Homo sapiens: one gene and its partner. Each later gene encodes a partner of the first gene's protein in a complex. Each region holds a gene or a part of one and is shown on either strand. Other genes may lie near its edges.

Region 1 (7,770 bases):
GAAGATCCTAGCAGCAGATAAGGGACTGGGGAGAATGAAACAGGGAAGGAGAGAAAGCCAGCACAAAGTTACATCATCATGTTGGTCACCTCTATGGACAACTGGGGCTCTATCCTGCTGGAACCTTCCAAAGAGCCATGTAGAACACTTCTCAGAGCTGTCCACTGGAGGGTCAATTTATCCCTTGGATGGGAGGGAAGATGGAAAGATTTACCCACTGACTCCTGCCCCCCATTGGTCAAGGGATGCCTCTTGGGGTGTTCATTCCCTGGCACATCCAGGTTGGGCATGCATGAGTACTAGGCAGGTTCTCCTGGGGAAGCCATGCCAGTGTTGTCAGGGACACTCCCTGGAAGAAAGGGAGAACTCTATGGAGCAGCTGAGGCAAGGGGCTGTCAGGTTATGCCTGCAGGAAGCTGGCTGCCTCAGCCATGTGGGCTGAGAGAATATCAAGTGGGGCACCCGAAGGGTCCAGTGTGCCCCCAATTTTGGGCACAGACCTCTGGTGGCCTTCTGGGGTCAGGCATCATGAGGTCACGGCCATAGCACCTGGATGGAGGGTGCCTTGGCTCCAGTCTTAGGAAGTATGCAGAGGTTTCTACCACTTGGGTGGGTGTCCAGCCTCATCTTCACCCTGCTCCCATTGGGGTCTTGGAGCCAACACCTGATCCTCCAGCACGAGTTGGTGCTCTTGGTGGCAGATCAGTGGGAATCGCTGGTCAGCTTGCACGTACATATCTGGACACATACACGCAGGTGGTGTCCCAGCAGATCCCTCGTGCTCAGCAGGGAGAAAGGTAGGAGAATCCTTTTCTCTTCCTCCCAGACAGAGGTGTGGATAAGAACTGCCCAGATACCCAAGGTTGTTACTGCTCACAGGGGTCTTACCCAAACCCCCAGTCTATCCATGTATATATTGCAGTATCGGAATACCCAGTGACTGCTAGCCCGTAAGTCTCCTTTGTGCAAATCAGAAAGAAAGCACCCCTTCCTCTGGATGGATGCAGCACCACACTAGGACCTGGCAACTAGGGAACAGCCTGGATTTCGGCTCCAGTTACTCCTCAGTTTTGTGCAGTGAGAAACCTGTACAAGTATCCCGAGCATCTGTCTACCCATCGGTGGTTGGTAACCTTCTTACTATAGCATACCAGTTTGATTATCCCCCCGCAACACTGGTTGGGGAAGATTTAGCCTCCAAGGCCCAGATTTTGGGACACTGGTTTTCATCTCCATGTGCTTTTGATCCTATCCCAGCCCTGTTGCCCTAGCCAGGGTCAGCTTCAGGCCCAGCCTATGCCCCGTGCAGTACCACCCTATCCGCCTCCACTGGCTCCTGTCCAGAGTAGACAACCTAACCCCAAGAGGCCCCGGCATCCTTCCCCTGGGTGCTGGGTGTTGGCCTGCTTGGCCTCAGTCTCTGGTCCTCCACTGCAGCCCTGGACGTCCCCCAGCCTGGTTAAGTGGGCCTAGGACCTGTTGGAGCATGGTCTCACTCTCTGGGGGGCCGATATGCAGAGAGGTTTGGAGCCCAGCTCAGATTCAGGTCACCTGACTTGATCTCCAGCTCCGCCACTTACCAGCTTTGTGATCTTGGACAAGTTACTTCACCTTTCCGAGCCGAGCCTCAGTTTCCCCATCTGTGGGAAAGAAATAACATTAGCACTCACTCCTCAGCGTTGTTGTGAGGATGAAATGAGATTATTTTGGTAAAGGCATTTAGCCCTGTGCCTTGCATGGAGTTGGCACTCAGCAACCATAGGTTATTTTCACGAGCCATAAATAGCAGGTCAGCAGCTCACAGAATCCAGCACAGTTCAGTTTTCCCCTCACCCCTGCCTCCCTCACAGCCTGTGTGGTCACACCTCCCAGGACTGCCACCTTGCTTTTGTCTGTGCCACACTGCGCAGTTCCAAAGCCCCCTTTCTGGATCCTCTCCTCCTAACTCCTGGGCCCCCTGGCCCTCCTGTCACTGCGGCCATCTCTGCTGGGCTCTGCAGGTGCTCACTCCTGTGGCCCAGCACAGCTCGATGTCTCCTGGGCTGGCTGCCTTCACATTCCCTCTTTCTGTTTCTCCCTCATCACGCTCAGCCCTCTCCCCTCACACTCTCTTCCCCACTTCACACCCCTCGCTCCCTTGCTGTTTCTACTCTCACCTCGAGATTCTTTCTGTGGGAAGGGTGGGGAGGGAGGAGGGGGCTGGGAATAAACAGAGGGGAGAGGCATTTCCAGATATGCTGCAGATAAAGAAAAAGAGAGAGCAACAGGAAGAGTGACAGAGTGAGGCGGTGACTGAAATCCACACAGACTGAAACGACAGAGAGACTCGCCAAGAGGACGATTGAGGCCAGAGAGATATCGAGAGACAGAGAAAAAGGGCCCAATGTACGCCGACCCAGAGAGTGGGCGGGGGGGGGGCACTCGGAGGCCTGGAGCCCGGGAAGCGTCTGTTACCGAGAGTTTAAGATTCAAGAGATAGCAGGAAATATGCGAGACAGAGAAACTCAGAGAGATAGCAAGCCAGAGAGAAGCTGAGGAGGAAAGATGGAAACAGAGAGTGAAATAGAGACCCAGACGGGGAGGGGTTGCGCGGCTGGAACTCACAGACACACACGTCCTGAGAGACAGAGGCATGGGGAGGGGAGAATGATTATGCCTGTCCCCAGCCCAGCTCAGTGTCCCCAAGGAGATACTTGGCTGTGAGTGACTTCCCTGGTGCAATACCCCCAAAAGTAGGGGCATCCTGTGAAAAGAGACTCAGTGTCCAGGGCTGGGGTTCCAAAGGACGAATCCCGGGCCCCAGGCCTAGGACCCCGGACATGAACACTTGGCAGAGCTGTGGGGAGTGGCCCCAGGATTCCAGCTCTCCATCAAGCCCAAGGCTCAGCCCCTCTCTAGGGATCCCCTACTCACGTTGGCACCTCTGGCCCAGCCCCTGCTTGGCCTCCTTGGTCTCTCTTCTCGTCAAGAGAAGTTCCTGAAACCAGCTGCAGTCCAGCTTCTCTCCCCGAGCTCTGTCGTTAATGGCTCAGCCTCTGACAGGCCCGGGGGCTGGGGATTGCAACACCTTCCGAGCCTCCCTCCTGCCCTCCCTTGCGCCTTCGAGGGCACAGGCAGCCCCTTCCTCCCAGGAAGGAGCCTGTGAGGGAAGCTGGTGAGGCCCGGGCAGCCTTCCTGCCTTGGGGGTCTTAAAGGGCTGGGGAATGTGGCAACGATGTCCCCCTCCCCTGCCTCCGGATTTCCTGAGCTCAAAGCTTTGAGGCTGGGCAGGGCCCAGGCTCCCACCTGGCTGGGTGCCATCCTTATGCCCCCTGCCCTGGGGGAGCATCACTTGGAGGCAGGCCCTGGCTGGAAGGCTCACCCGGCCCTAAGCCTCTTTTCAGCTCTAGCCTTGGGGACCACATCTTCACAGTACTCAGAAGGGTGTGTTCCAGGTTCCAGGGAATTGTGTAACCCAATACTCACTGCTCCCCTCTTCATTACGTATTCTGTGCATTGCCCATAGACCAGGCAGATGGAGAAACAGGAATTCTGGGGGCAAGACAGGAGGACGTCTTGGTGAGGCACGGGGTCTTTATATGTTCACTAAAAATTAGGAATGTTTACCCACAATGGTTCTGCAACACTGAATATTTTGTAATTGAGTGAAATAGACTACATTTTATGTCTTTTATTGTCTGTATTCATGATTCTTCTAAAACTACAAATAATTTTCTTTGCATTTTCTGAGAAAGGTTCAAACTGCTCATAGTTTATTGGATTCATAACCCAAAAAAGGTTAGGTGCCAACAGACCAGCAGACTGTCCTTAACATATAATCCTTTTGAGGCATCTGGGTCTGGTGTGATGCTGCAGACCAGGGCTGTAGTTCTAGTTCCAAGTCAAATGACCTGACTGCCTGCTGCAACCCTCCCAAGATATCCCACAGGCTCTGCTCGCTCAGTGAGTCCCATGGACTCTCTTCTTTCCAAATATAACCAGAATCCTGGGTATTCACTGTAAAGTTCAACTTGGCTCTACGTTTGAATATTTTTATGATAATATTTGGAAAATATAAATATAACTGAAACCAATACTAGCCAGCTCCAAGCTACCCTCATCTATTGCCTAGATAATCGCAATAGCCCCCTGCCTGCTCTCCTGCTTCTATTTCATCCTTGTTCCCGCACCTGTCTGTAATTCCTTCAGCAGCCAGTGCGATATCAATCAAACAGAAGTCTGATCAGCCCATCCTCGTCCCAACCTTTCCAATGGCTCCTGTCTCATTCAGAGTCAAAGTCAAAGCCCTTTGGATGGTCTACAAGGCCCTACAAAACCTGGTATCCCTGTTACCTCCTGGATCCCTCTCCTGTTATTCTCCCCCTTGCTGCCTTGCTCCAGCTACTCTGTGTTCTTTGCTTCTTGAACTTGTTATGCTGTCTCTTGCCTCAGGGCCTTTGCACTTGCTGTTTCATTTGCCTGGACTCTTTCCCCCGCAAATAGCTACATGGGCTGGTCCCTCCCCTTCTTCAGGTCTTTGCTCAAATGTCACTTTCTCATTGAGGCCTTCTCTGAGCACCCTTTTCAAAATTTGCAAGCCCCTTCCCTCCCACTCCCTATCTCTCTCTCCCCCAAATCCCTTTTCACCATCTGATATTGGCTGTCTCAATCCCCACTAGACTGAAAGTTCCATAAGAGCAACAGTTTTTATCTGTTTTGTTCAAAACTTTATCTCCAGTGTCTATAACACTGCTTGCCACACAGTAAGGCCTCCATGCGTGTTTGTTGAATGAATGATCAACTGGATGAATCTTCCCCCACTTCACCAAATCTGTCTCTAATCCCCACGTACCTTGTCATGGTGAATTAACCACCATCCCCTCCTCTCCCTAGTCATGCAGCTCAGGGACTCAGGAGTCATTCCTTACAACCCTTTCTCCACATTCCCATGTCCAGTCAGTTCTTTTAGTTCTTTTTTTTCTTTCTTTCTTTTTTTTTTTTTGAGACAGAGTCTCACTTTGTCACCCAGGCTGGAATGCAGTGGCGCGATTTTGGATCACTGCAACCTCTGACTCCCAGGTTCAAGTGATTCTCCTGCCTCAGCCTCCCAAGTAGCTGGAATTACAAATGCCTGCCATCATGCCTGGCTAATTTTTGTATTTTCAGTAGAGATTGGGTTTCACCATGTTGGCCAGGCTGGTCTTGAACTGCTGACCTCAAGTGATCCGCCCACCTCAGCCTCCCAAAGTGCTGGTTTTATAGGCGTGAACCACCGCACCTGGCCTTCTGGTCATTTTAAATTTATTTTTTATTTTTATTTTCATTCTTTTTTTTTGAGATGGAGTCTCGCTCTGCCACCCAGGCTAGAGTGCAGTGGCGCGATCTCGGCTCACTGCAACCTCTGCCTCCCAGGTTCAAGTGATTCTCCTGCCTCAGCCTTCTGAGTAGCTGGGACTACAGGCACGCACCACCACGCCCGACTAATTTTTTTGTATTTTTAGTAGAGACAGGGTTTTGCCATGTTGGCCAGGCTGGTCTCGAACTCCTAGCCTCAAGTGATCTGCCTGCCTCGGCTTCCCGAAGTGTTGGGATTACAGGCATGAGTCACCGCGCCTGGCCCCAGTCAGTTCTTAATGAAGGAGAATGGGCCTTTTGTTCATCATTCAGAGAACTTGCTCCTGGAGCAGGTGCAGGGACACAATGGTGAGACACAGTTTTAGTTCCTGCCTTTATGGAGCTCCCGTCTCAGCCTTGCCAATGGCCCTGCAATCCTTCTCCTCTCCCTGTCTTTCTTCAGAGGCCCGTCGTCACATCCTAACTCCTGAACCGGACATGCAAGTTACCCTCGCCTCCCTCTCCTGCCTCACCAGCCCCTGCTTCCTCAGATCCAGCCCGTCATGCTCCGGTCATGCCAAATTCACTAGTATTTCCCTGCCTGCCCCAGGCTCTGGAACAACCCTGTGCCTTTCTTCTGCGGAGCGCCTGTCACCTCCTGCTGGCTGAGTCCTGTTCCTGACCCAGTTCAAGCATCCAGCCTGAGCTCAGCATCCCTCTGGGCTTCCACACCTTAGTCAAGCTGAATTAGGGGCCCTTCTCCCCATTCATCCTGTAATACTGTAGTAGGCTGTTGGCCGCCTGCCTCCTCCATTATACTGTGAACTCTTTGAGGGCAGAAACTGTATTCTCACCTCTGCCTCTCTAGCCTCAGTACAGTGCCGGACACACAGAGGATACTCAATGCATATCTGTTGGGCTGCAGAACCTTGGAGATGGTGTTTACCTCTTCCAAGCCTCTGTTTCCTAATCTGTCACAGTGATAATAACTCCTCCCAGGGATTTTGTGATAATTAAATTAGCTATCAGAAATACAATGCCTAGTATGGTAACCAGCGCATAGTAGGTGTTCAATAAAGTTGCTTTCCTTTGTTCCCTTCTGCATAATTCAATATTTAGGAGGGAGATTCTACTATTCTCCTTTGTGCTCCATTCTCTGTTGAGGACCTGCACCAGGAAATGGAGCTGCAGCAGCCAGAATAAAAGTTAGATTTAAGGAAATGAAAGTTAGATTTAAGGAAGAGCTTTCTTTAGAGTGTACTGAGGTTAAGATGATGAGCTGAGGAGTCAGGCTGCTTCAATTTGCCACTTGCTGCCTGTGTGACTCCAAACAAATGTTTAATCTCTTTAAGCCTCGGTTTTGTCATCTGTAAAATGGGGCTAACAGTATTGGCTTCATAGGATTCTTGAGAGAAATCAGTGACCGTAAGGCTTGTGGAACACAGCCAGGAACACAGTAAATGCTTAATAAGTGTTTACTATGGTGCACTGAAGAGCACAAGACAGACGAGGAGTCATCCCCTCTACCCGCACCCAGTGTCGGCTTTGTGGATACTTCCTCTTCCAGCTGTCCTGCCTCCCGCCCCTCCTCCATCAGACAAGGCCTCTGTGTGTTGGAAACCCTGGGTAAGGGAGTGCTGGTGAGGGAACCCTATTCTTGGCAGCCTAGCTACTGAGCCCCGAGTTGTTTCTGTTTCTGTTACTGCCTGTGATGTGTGGGGCTTCTGGGTAGGTCAAGGAGCAGCTTGTTTCAGAGGGGCCGGGGCGGGGTCCAGGTGGGCAAGCTGGGGTGAGTGCCCGGAAGTTGAGGCTGTGGTGCTCAGCTGCCAGGGCCGGGGTTGGCTGGAATACAGCAGGCAGCTAAGATTGTGCAAACAGGTCATTGTGCAAACGCGCCCCTGTGTGTGACCTCGATTGTGCAAACAGGTGTTTACTGGAGGCTGCTCCGCTTGGACAGCCCACTTACAAAAAGCCCTTGAGCTGTTGACTTAGAAAGAAACTGGACACTCCTTCTTCCCTGAACCCACCCTGAACTTTCCGCCTCCTGGCCTTTGCTCAGGCTGTTCTCTCTGCCTCGAGTGCCCTCCCTCACCTCCACCTCAACTTGCTGAAATTCTACTCATTCTTCAAGGCTCAGAGAAAATGCCACTAAGTCTTTTTTTCTTTTTCTTTTCTTTTTTTTTTTTTTGAGACAGAGTTTCATTCTTCTTGCCCAGGCTGGAGTGCAGTGGCGCGATGTTGGCTCACTGCAACCTCCTCCTCCCAGGTTCATGCGATTCTCCTGTCTTAGCCTCCCAAGTAGCTGGGATTACAGGCGCCTGCCACCATACCTGGCTAATTTTTGTATATTTAGTAGAGAAAGGGTTTCACCATGGTGGCCAGGCTGGTCTCGAACTCCTGTCCTTAGGCAATCCGCCTGCTCGGCCTCCCAAAGTGTTGGGATTATAGGCGTGAGCC
Region 2 (7,621 bases), on another chromosome or scaffold:
CAGAGACCGAGTCTGAGGAGAGAAGCTCTGACCCCAGTGGTCACCTTGAACTTGGCTTCCACTTTGTGGGCAACTTGATGGATGGGCTCAAGTTTATGGAAGATGGTAAATGACAAGCCTGGTGCAGATGCTCAGCACTCCCTGGCTTCATCTTGTCTGGCTGTGTCTGGCCTGTTAAGCCCACCCAGACCCCATGCCCTCTCCTTTCCGGGTTCCCATGGTCCCTGTGCCTCTGTCTTCCCTGCCAGGCTTTGGCTGCTCGAGTGCAGATTCCATGTCTGCCTTGTTCCCTGCTGTGTCCCCAGCACTTAGCCCAGCGTCTGCACAGAGTAGGTGCTCAGATAAATATGTGCTAACGGAATGAATGTCAGACGAACTTGAGAACTTTCCTCCTCCTCCCTGGACCTCCTCCCCAGACCTCCTCCCCGACCTCCCTCTGGCCTCTCCCACCCTTCAGCCACCTCCCCAGCCCCTGGCCAGGCACCAGCTGGACTCAAGAAGGAGGAAGGACGTGACTGGAGGCAAACACTTTATTATCCTGAAGTTCAGTTACAATGTGACAGTGGAGGGGACACTGGTGAGTGGGGGGTGAAGAGGTGGAGGGTGACAGTGGAGCTTCCTTTCACACACAGGCCTGACATGATTCCTCCTGTCTGCTCCCTCCCACATCCCCAGTCCCCGTCCAGCAAGGCAAATGTCCAGGCACCTGCCTGGCCCTAAAAAGAGTCACAGTCCTGACCCTCGTGGGGGCAGGGCAGGTGTCCCGAGGCCACCCAGAAAAACAGGAGACGCGTCGGTGATGTTCGGGAGTCAAACCATGTCCCAAAAGTCTTAAGAAGAAAAACGAGATTCCCCAGCAAATTCGTGGGACCCCAGGGCCATGCCTCCCAGCTCTGGCCACCTCTGCTTGTCCAGGGGCCTCACAGCCAAGGGGATGCAGGGGCCGCTGTGCAGTCGGCTGAGGCCAGAGTGAGGGGTGCAAGGACCCAGATGGGGAACACTGCTGTTTAAATATTAAACAGGGATTTCTTGTCTCCCACGTGGGAGACCTGATACTCTCAAGGGTCCCAGGTGGGGACCCTCAGGACCAGGGGCTCACAGCGGCTCATCCCAGTGCCCATTGCAGAGCCAGGGCTGGGGAGCAGTCATAGTAATAAATACTTGGTATTTACCTATCTACCTCCCAGTCCAGGGGATGGGAGGACAGGAGCTTTTTCTCACTGCTACAGGCAGGAGAATGAAACTCAGAAATGCAGGGAAGGACACAGAGGCCTGGGGCTCCGTTCTGCTCTTCCCTGTCTTTAAATATGAGGCTTAAATAGACATAAATATTAAATAGAGATAAATACATGGGATGGGGAGGGCTTGGCTCAGGGCTGGGCAAGGTGGCGTAGAACGCGGTACGACACCTCCAGGAAGCTCTGCAGATGGGAGGCAACCAGGACCCCTCCTGCCCGGCGCTGGAAAGCAGAGGCGAAGGCCGGCATGGCACCCTGGGTGGGCTGCAGGGCAGGGGCCATTCCCAGTTCTTCCATCTGTGGGGGAAAGCTGTGATCAGTGGTTGGGCCCTTCTGAGTGGGCGTTATTACAAATGAGGAAATGCTGGGGGTGACAGCATGGACAGGGCCCATACACAGGCCTGGCTGTGGTGCCCAGAATGCCAGCACGACCTTGGCCACCCTGCCCAACAAGGCTCACCTGCTGCCAGATGGTGGTGGCAAAGTCGGCGACGTCCAGCTGCAGTGTGTCCAAGGTGGGACCCAACTCGGGGGAGATCCCTTCCAGGGCCTGCAGGAGCCCCTGGTAGAGGAAAAGGCCGCTATGGAGTTGGCTCAAGCAGCCTGCCTGTGAGACAGAGCGGAAGAGTTAGGGGGTGCTGCCTGAGATACGTCAGGCCCCCAGCTTGGAACCTGGAGACATGGGGGAGCCCATGGGTGTTCCTCCTCTCCTTCCCCCTCCTCATTAGCCTTATCCTTTCCTGACACTCACCAGCTGCAGGGCCTGGCTGGGGCAGCTGCTCAGGGGAGCCCAGGGGATGCCCAGAGAGTGTCCGAGCAGCACCAGCTCCTCGGGGTGGCACAGCTTGTAGGTGGCACACTGGGGATGGAAGGATGCTGAGTGAGACTCGCCATGGCCGGGTCGCCGCTCCTTCCCGGGTCCTCCCCGACTCTCTGGTCTTTCCCCTCCCTCCATGTCCTGCCAGGCTGTTCAGTTCCTCTCTGCCCTGCACCCCCACTCTCTGATCTCACAGGGGCCCTTGCCCTTTCTCCTGAATGTAATGCCTCCACTCCCATCCCAGCCAGCCCTCCCGAGCACTGTCCCCACCAAGGTCCTCCTCCCCAAGTCCCTTCCCAGCCTTCCCCAGCTCCACTGCTCCTAATATTCTCCCACGTCCCTTCCAGAGGATGTTGGCCCTGCAGTTCCATCCCCCTTAGCTCTCCCCACCGGGCTTCCCTCCACAGCCCTCTCACCCACCTCACTCACCAGCTTCTCCTGGAGCGCTGCGCCATCGCCCTGGATCTTCCTCACTTGCTCTAAGCACTTGAGCAGGAAGCTCTGGGGCAGGGAGCTGGCAGGGCCCAGGGGGGTGGCTTCCTGCACTGTCCAGAGTGCACTGTGCCACAGCAGCAGCTGCAGGGCTGGGGACAGAGCGGGCTCAGGAGACATGCTGTTCCCTACCACCTGAGGCCCTCTCGGGGACACTGGGTGCCTTTAATCCCCATTCCCAGAACGGGGATCCCCAGCCCCTCTGTCACACCAGCCTCCCTCCCATGCCAGGGCAGGCGGCTCTCCCATCCTGGGCCAAGACACTCACCCATCAGCTTCATGGGGCTCTGGGTGGCAGGTCCAGCCATGGGTCTGGGTGGGGCTGGGCTGCAGGCTCCGGGCTGTTTTGGGGCCCAGCTCTAGGGGGGCCTTTATACATAACCCCATGGAGGCCTGGGAGGAAATTACCTGGGGCCACGACTAAGGCTTAGTAATAACTTCCCAGGATTTATGCAAATTTGGTGTCCAAGACAATGCAGGGGGGTTGGAACAAAAAGCTGTTTGCGAAAGTTTTGTGAAATTGTGGAATCTCTGATCCTCCTTTGACGTCGCCTTGCCCCCCTCAAACTCCCTTCCTCCCGCTGCCCCACCCAGGCCTGAATGGCCCCAGAGTGTTTGAACAGAACAGCTGAACAAAGGCTGAGCCGCTGATAGACGCCTGGAAGCGGCAGCAGCCTGTGGGGAAGTGGCAGCTGAGTCGGGGTCTCCCTCTCTGCTCTGGCAGACTTGCGGGGGCAGTGTCCTTTGCCCCTCTCCTTTGGGATTCTCAAGCCTGTCCCCCAAGCCCCCAAATTCTAAGAGAGAAAAAAAGAAGCTGGTTGCTCCCATTCCTACCCCCAAACTCTCCGGAGGCTGCCTGTCTGGGAGACCTCCTGAGCCCCTACCTGAGATAAGGACATTGGGTCTTGGCTGCTGTGCCCACCCCACACTTGGATAGGCACCATCGAAAGTTCCAGGCTGTCCTGTCCCAAGTTGATTAGCTGGGAACTCCCCCAGAAACCCCCCCGCCCCCCATGACTCATTCGGCTAAAGCCCCTAGAATCCCGGTAGAGCCAGAGGAAACCGGATGTCTGTCCCGAATGAGGCAAGACCCTTCGAGGCGATTGGCTCACCTGACCTTCACCTCCTCGTGCACGACCCTGACAGTAGGGTCCCCAAGGGCTTTGGAACTGCGGGATTGGGACACGTGACTTCCCTGGTCATTCACCTTGAAGTGGACACGGGCTGGGGTGAGAGAGGGGAAACTGCCCCATCTTCTCATCTTAGAACCATGCAGCGTTAATGCTGGAAGGGACCTTGGAGTCGATTCCAACCCCGTGAACTGGGCCAGGGAAGGAAGTGCCTTGCCCAAGGTCATGGTAAGTGACAGAATTACAGCCTGGGCCTCTGGCTCAGACCTGAACGTTTTCTTTTTCTTTTCCAGATGGAGTCTTGCTCTGTCGCCCAGGCTGGAGTGCAGTGGCGCGATCTCGGCTCACTGCAAACTCTGCCTCTCGGGTTCACGCCATTCTCCTGCCTCAGCCTCCCGAGTAGCTGGAACTACAGGTGCCCGCCACCATGCCCGGCCAATTTTTTGTATTTTTAGTAGAGACGGGGTTTCACCGTGTTAGCCAGGATGGTCACGATCTCCTGACCTCGTGATCCACCCGCCTCGGCCTCCCAAAGTGCTGGGATTACAGGCGTGAGCCACCGTGCCCGGCCTAGGCCTGAACGTTTTCTACAGGCCACAAGGCCTGCCTGGGGCAGTCTGACTGACCACACCCAAGACTGTCACCTTCTGTCCTAATTTACCCCAGCGTGCCAAGAAACAGACATCTCTGGATGAGAAGTGGATGTGGTGACTGGATGGGGCCATCTCTGGTGCTTGGGGGCCCCCTGGTGGTCACCAATGGCAGGGACGTCTGATCTCACACACTGATCTCACACACTGTTATCTGGTCCGCGGTCCTGCAGCTCCGCCTTAGCTCTGTGGCTCAGCACCTTGCACTGATGTGGCCCAGCTCTGTACCCAGCTCCCTGGGAGTAGAGGGTGGGTTTTTGTTGTTGTTTTTTTGAGATGGAGTTTCGCTCATTGCTCAGGCTGGAGTGCAATGGCACGATCTCGGCTCACTACAACCTCCGCCTCCCTGGTTCTAGTGATTTTCCTGCCTCAGCCTCCCAAGTAGGTGGGATTACAGGCATGCACCACCATGCTCATCTAATTTTGTATTTTTAGTAGAGGTGGGATTTCACCATGTTGGTGGTCAGGCTGGTCTCGAACTCCTGACCTCAGGTGATCCACCCGCCTCGGCCTCCCAAAGTGCTGGGATTATAGGCATGAGCCACTGCACCTGGCCTTGAGGGTGGGTTTTTAACAGGACCATGGAAGGCAGGAGCTCCACATTCTTAAACATGTTGCCTGGCAACTATTGCATTGCACACCTCTTATATGTCAGGCACTTTTTTTTTTTTTTTTTAAGACAGAGTTTGGCTCTTGTTGCCCAGGCTGGAGTGGGTGGAGTGCAATGGCACGATCTCGGCTCACTGCAACCGCCGCCTCCTGGGTTCAAGTGATTCTCCTGCCTCAGCCTCCTGAGTAGCTGGGATTACAGGCATGCTCCACCACTGCCCCCACAGCCGGCTAATTTTGTATTTTTAGAAGAGATGGGCTTTCTCCATGTTGGCCAGGCTGGTCTCACACTCCTGACCTTAGGTGACCCGCCCGCCTCGGCTTCCCAAAGTGCTGGGATTACAGGCATGAGCCACTGCGCCTAGCCATATCAGGCACCTCTTATTACACTTTTGTCAATTTTTTTGCGGAGGGGAAACAGGGTCTCAGTCTGTCCCCCAGCCTAGAGGGCTGTGGTACAATCACAGCTCACTGCAGTCTTCACCTCCCAGGCTCAAGCGATCCTCCCACTTTAGCCTCCCGCGTAGCTGGGACCACAGGCACGGACCACCATGCTCCGCCAATTTTTGTAATTTTTTTTTTTTTGCAGAGAGGGCATTTCATCATGTTGCCCAGGCTGATCTCAAACTCCTGGGCTTGTGTCCGAAACTGGTGAGTGCTTGGTCTCACTGACTTCAAGAAGGAAGCCGCGGACCCTCGCAGTGAGTGTTACAGCTCTTAAGGTGGTGCATCTGGAGTTTGTTCCTTCTGATGTTCAGATGTGTTCGCAGTTTCTTCCTTCTGGTGGGTTCGTGGTCTCGCTGGCTGAGGAGTGAAGCTGCAGACCTTCGCGGTGAGTGTTATAGCTCTTAAGGCAGCGCGGCCGGAGTTGTTCATTCCTCCCGGTGGGCTCGTGGTCTTAGTGGCTTCAGGAGTGAAGCTGCAGACCTTCGTGGTGAGTGTTACAGCTCATAAAAGCAGTGTGGACCCAAAAAGCGAGCAGTAGCAAGATTTATCGCAAACAGCAAAAGAACAAAGCTGCCATATTGTGGATGGGGACCTGTGCCCGTTGCCACTGCTGGCTCGGGCAGCCTGCTTTTATTCTCTTATCTGGCCCCACCCACATCCTGCTGATTGGTAGAGCCGAGTGGTCTGTTTTGACAGGGCGCTGATTGGTGCGTTTACAATCCCTGAGCTAGACACAAAGGTTCTCCACGTCCCCACTAGATTAACTAGATACAGAGTGTCGACACAAACATTCTCCAAGGCCCCACCAGAGTAGCTGTCAAGCCTCTGAGCCCAAGCCAAGCCATCGCATCCCCTGTAACTTGCACATATACGCCCAGATGGCCTGAAGTAACTGAAGAATCACAAAAGAAGTGAATATGCCCTGCCCCAACTTAACTGATGACATTCCACCACAAAAGAGGTGTAAATGGCGGGTCCTTGCCTTAATTGATGACATTACCTTGTGAAAGTCCTTTTCCTGGCTCATCCTGGCTCAAAAAGCACCCCCACTGAGCACCTTGCGACCCCCCACTCCTGCCCGCCAGAGAACAAACCCCCTTTGACTGTAATTTTCCTTTACCTACCCAAATCCTATAAAACGGCCCCACCCTTATCTCCCTTCGCTGACTCTCTTTTCGGACTCAGCCCACCTGCACCCAGGTGATAAAAGCTTTATTGCTCACACAAAGCCTGTTTGGTGGTCTCTTCACACGGATGCCCATGAAAGTAGCCAGATACAGACTGTCGATTGGTGCATTCACATACCCTGAGCTAGACACAGGGTGCTGATTGGTGTGTTTACAAACCTTGAGCTAGATACAGAGTGCCGATTGGTGTATTTACAATCCCTGAGCTAGACATAAAGGTTCTCCAAGGCCCCATCAGAGTAGCTAGATACAGAGTGTGGATTGGTGCATTCACAGAACCTGAGCTAGACACAGGGTGCTGATTGGTGTATTTACGATCCCTGAGCTAGACATAAAGGTTCTCCAAGTCTCCACCAGACTCAGGAGCCCAGCTGGCTTCACCCAGTGGATTCCGCACCAGGGCTGCAGGGGTAGCTGCCTGCCAGTCCCGGTGCCGTGCGCCCGCACTTCTCAGCCCTTGCGTGGTCGATGGGACTGGGCGCTGTGGAGCAGGGGGTGGTGCTCGTCGGGGAGGCTCGGGCCGCACAGGAGCCCATGGAGGGGAGGCTCAGGCATGGCGGGCTGCAGGTCCCGAGCCCTGCCCCGCGGGAAGGCTGCTAAGGCCCAGTGAGAAATCGAGCGAGCACAGCGCCGGCGGGCTGGCACTGCTGGGGCACCCAGTACACCCTCCGCAGCCGCTGGCCCGGGTGCTAAGCCTCTCATTGCCCGGGGCCTGGCAGGGCTGGCCCGCTGCTCCGAGTGCGGGGCCCGCCAAGCCCACGCCCACCCGGAACTCCAGCTGGCCCGCAAGCGCCGCGCGCAGCCCCGGTTCCTGCTTGAGCCTCTCCCTCCACACCTCCCTGCAAGCTGAGGGAGCCGGCTCTGGCCTTGGCCAGCCCAGAAAGGGGCTCCCACAGTGCAGCGGTGGGCTGAAGGGCTCCTCAAGTGCCACCGAAGTGGGAGCCCAGGCAGAGGAGGCGCCGAGAGCGAACGAGGGCTGTGAGGACTGCCGGCATGCTGTCACCTCTCAGGCTCAAGCCATCCACCCGCCTTGGCCTCCCAAAGTGCTGGG

Evidence for each region.
Region 2: the proteins of CSF3R (region 1) and CSF3 are in contact, whole or in part, in a crystal structure (PDB 2D9Q), measured with the Homo sapiens proteins. Residues at the interface, in NP_000751.1 of Homo sapiens: Arg164, Arg190, Lys191, Leu193, Leu194, Leu195, Tyr196, Gln197, Asp220, Met222, His261, Ile262, Asn263, Arg311, Pro313, Leu314; in NP_000750.1 of Homo sapiens: Ser42, Leu45, Lys46, Glu49, Gln50, Arg52, Lys53, Leu141, Asp142, Asp145, Thr148, Thr149, Gln152.

Annotation. Positions count from the first base shown.
Region 1 is NC_000001.11:36,479,898-36,487,667, forward strand, and holds the start of CSF3R (granulocyte colony-stimulating factor receptor isoform a precursor), read right to left. Parts: upstream 3,017-7,770; 5' UTR 2,914-3,016; intron 1,641-2,913; 5' UTR 1,581-1,640; intron 184-1,580; exon of another isoform or gene 90-183; intron 1-89. UniProt on the Homo sapiens protein: Receptor for granulocyte colony-stimulating factor (CSF3), essential for granulocytic maturation. Plays a crucial role in the proliferation, differentiation and survival of cells along the neutrophilic lineage.
Region 2 is NC_000017.11:40,010,709-40,018,329, reverse strand, and holds CSF3 (granulocyte colony-stimulating factor isoform b precursor), read right to left. Parts: upstream 2,891-7,621; 5' UTR 2,856-2,890; coding exon 2,816-2,855; exon of another isoform or gene 2,640-2,815; coding exon 2,485-2,639; coding exon of another isoform or gene 2,476-2,484; intron 2,098-2,475; coding exon 1,990-2,097; intron 1,846-1,989; coding exon 1,699-1,845; intron 1,536-1,698; coding exon 1,371-1,535; 3' UTR 517-1,370; downstream 1-516. UniProt on the Homo sapiens protein: Granulocyte/macrophage colony-stimulating factors are cytokines that act in hematopoiesis by controlling the production, differentiation, and function of 2 related white cell populations of the blood, the granulocytes and the monocytes-macrophages.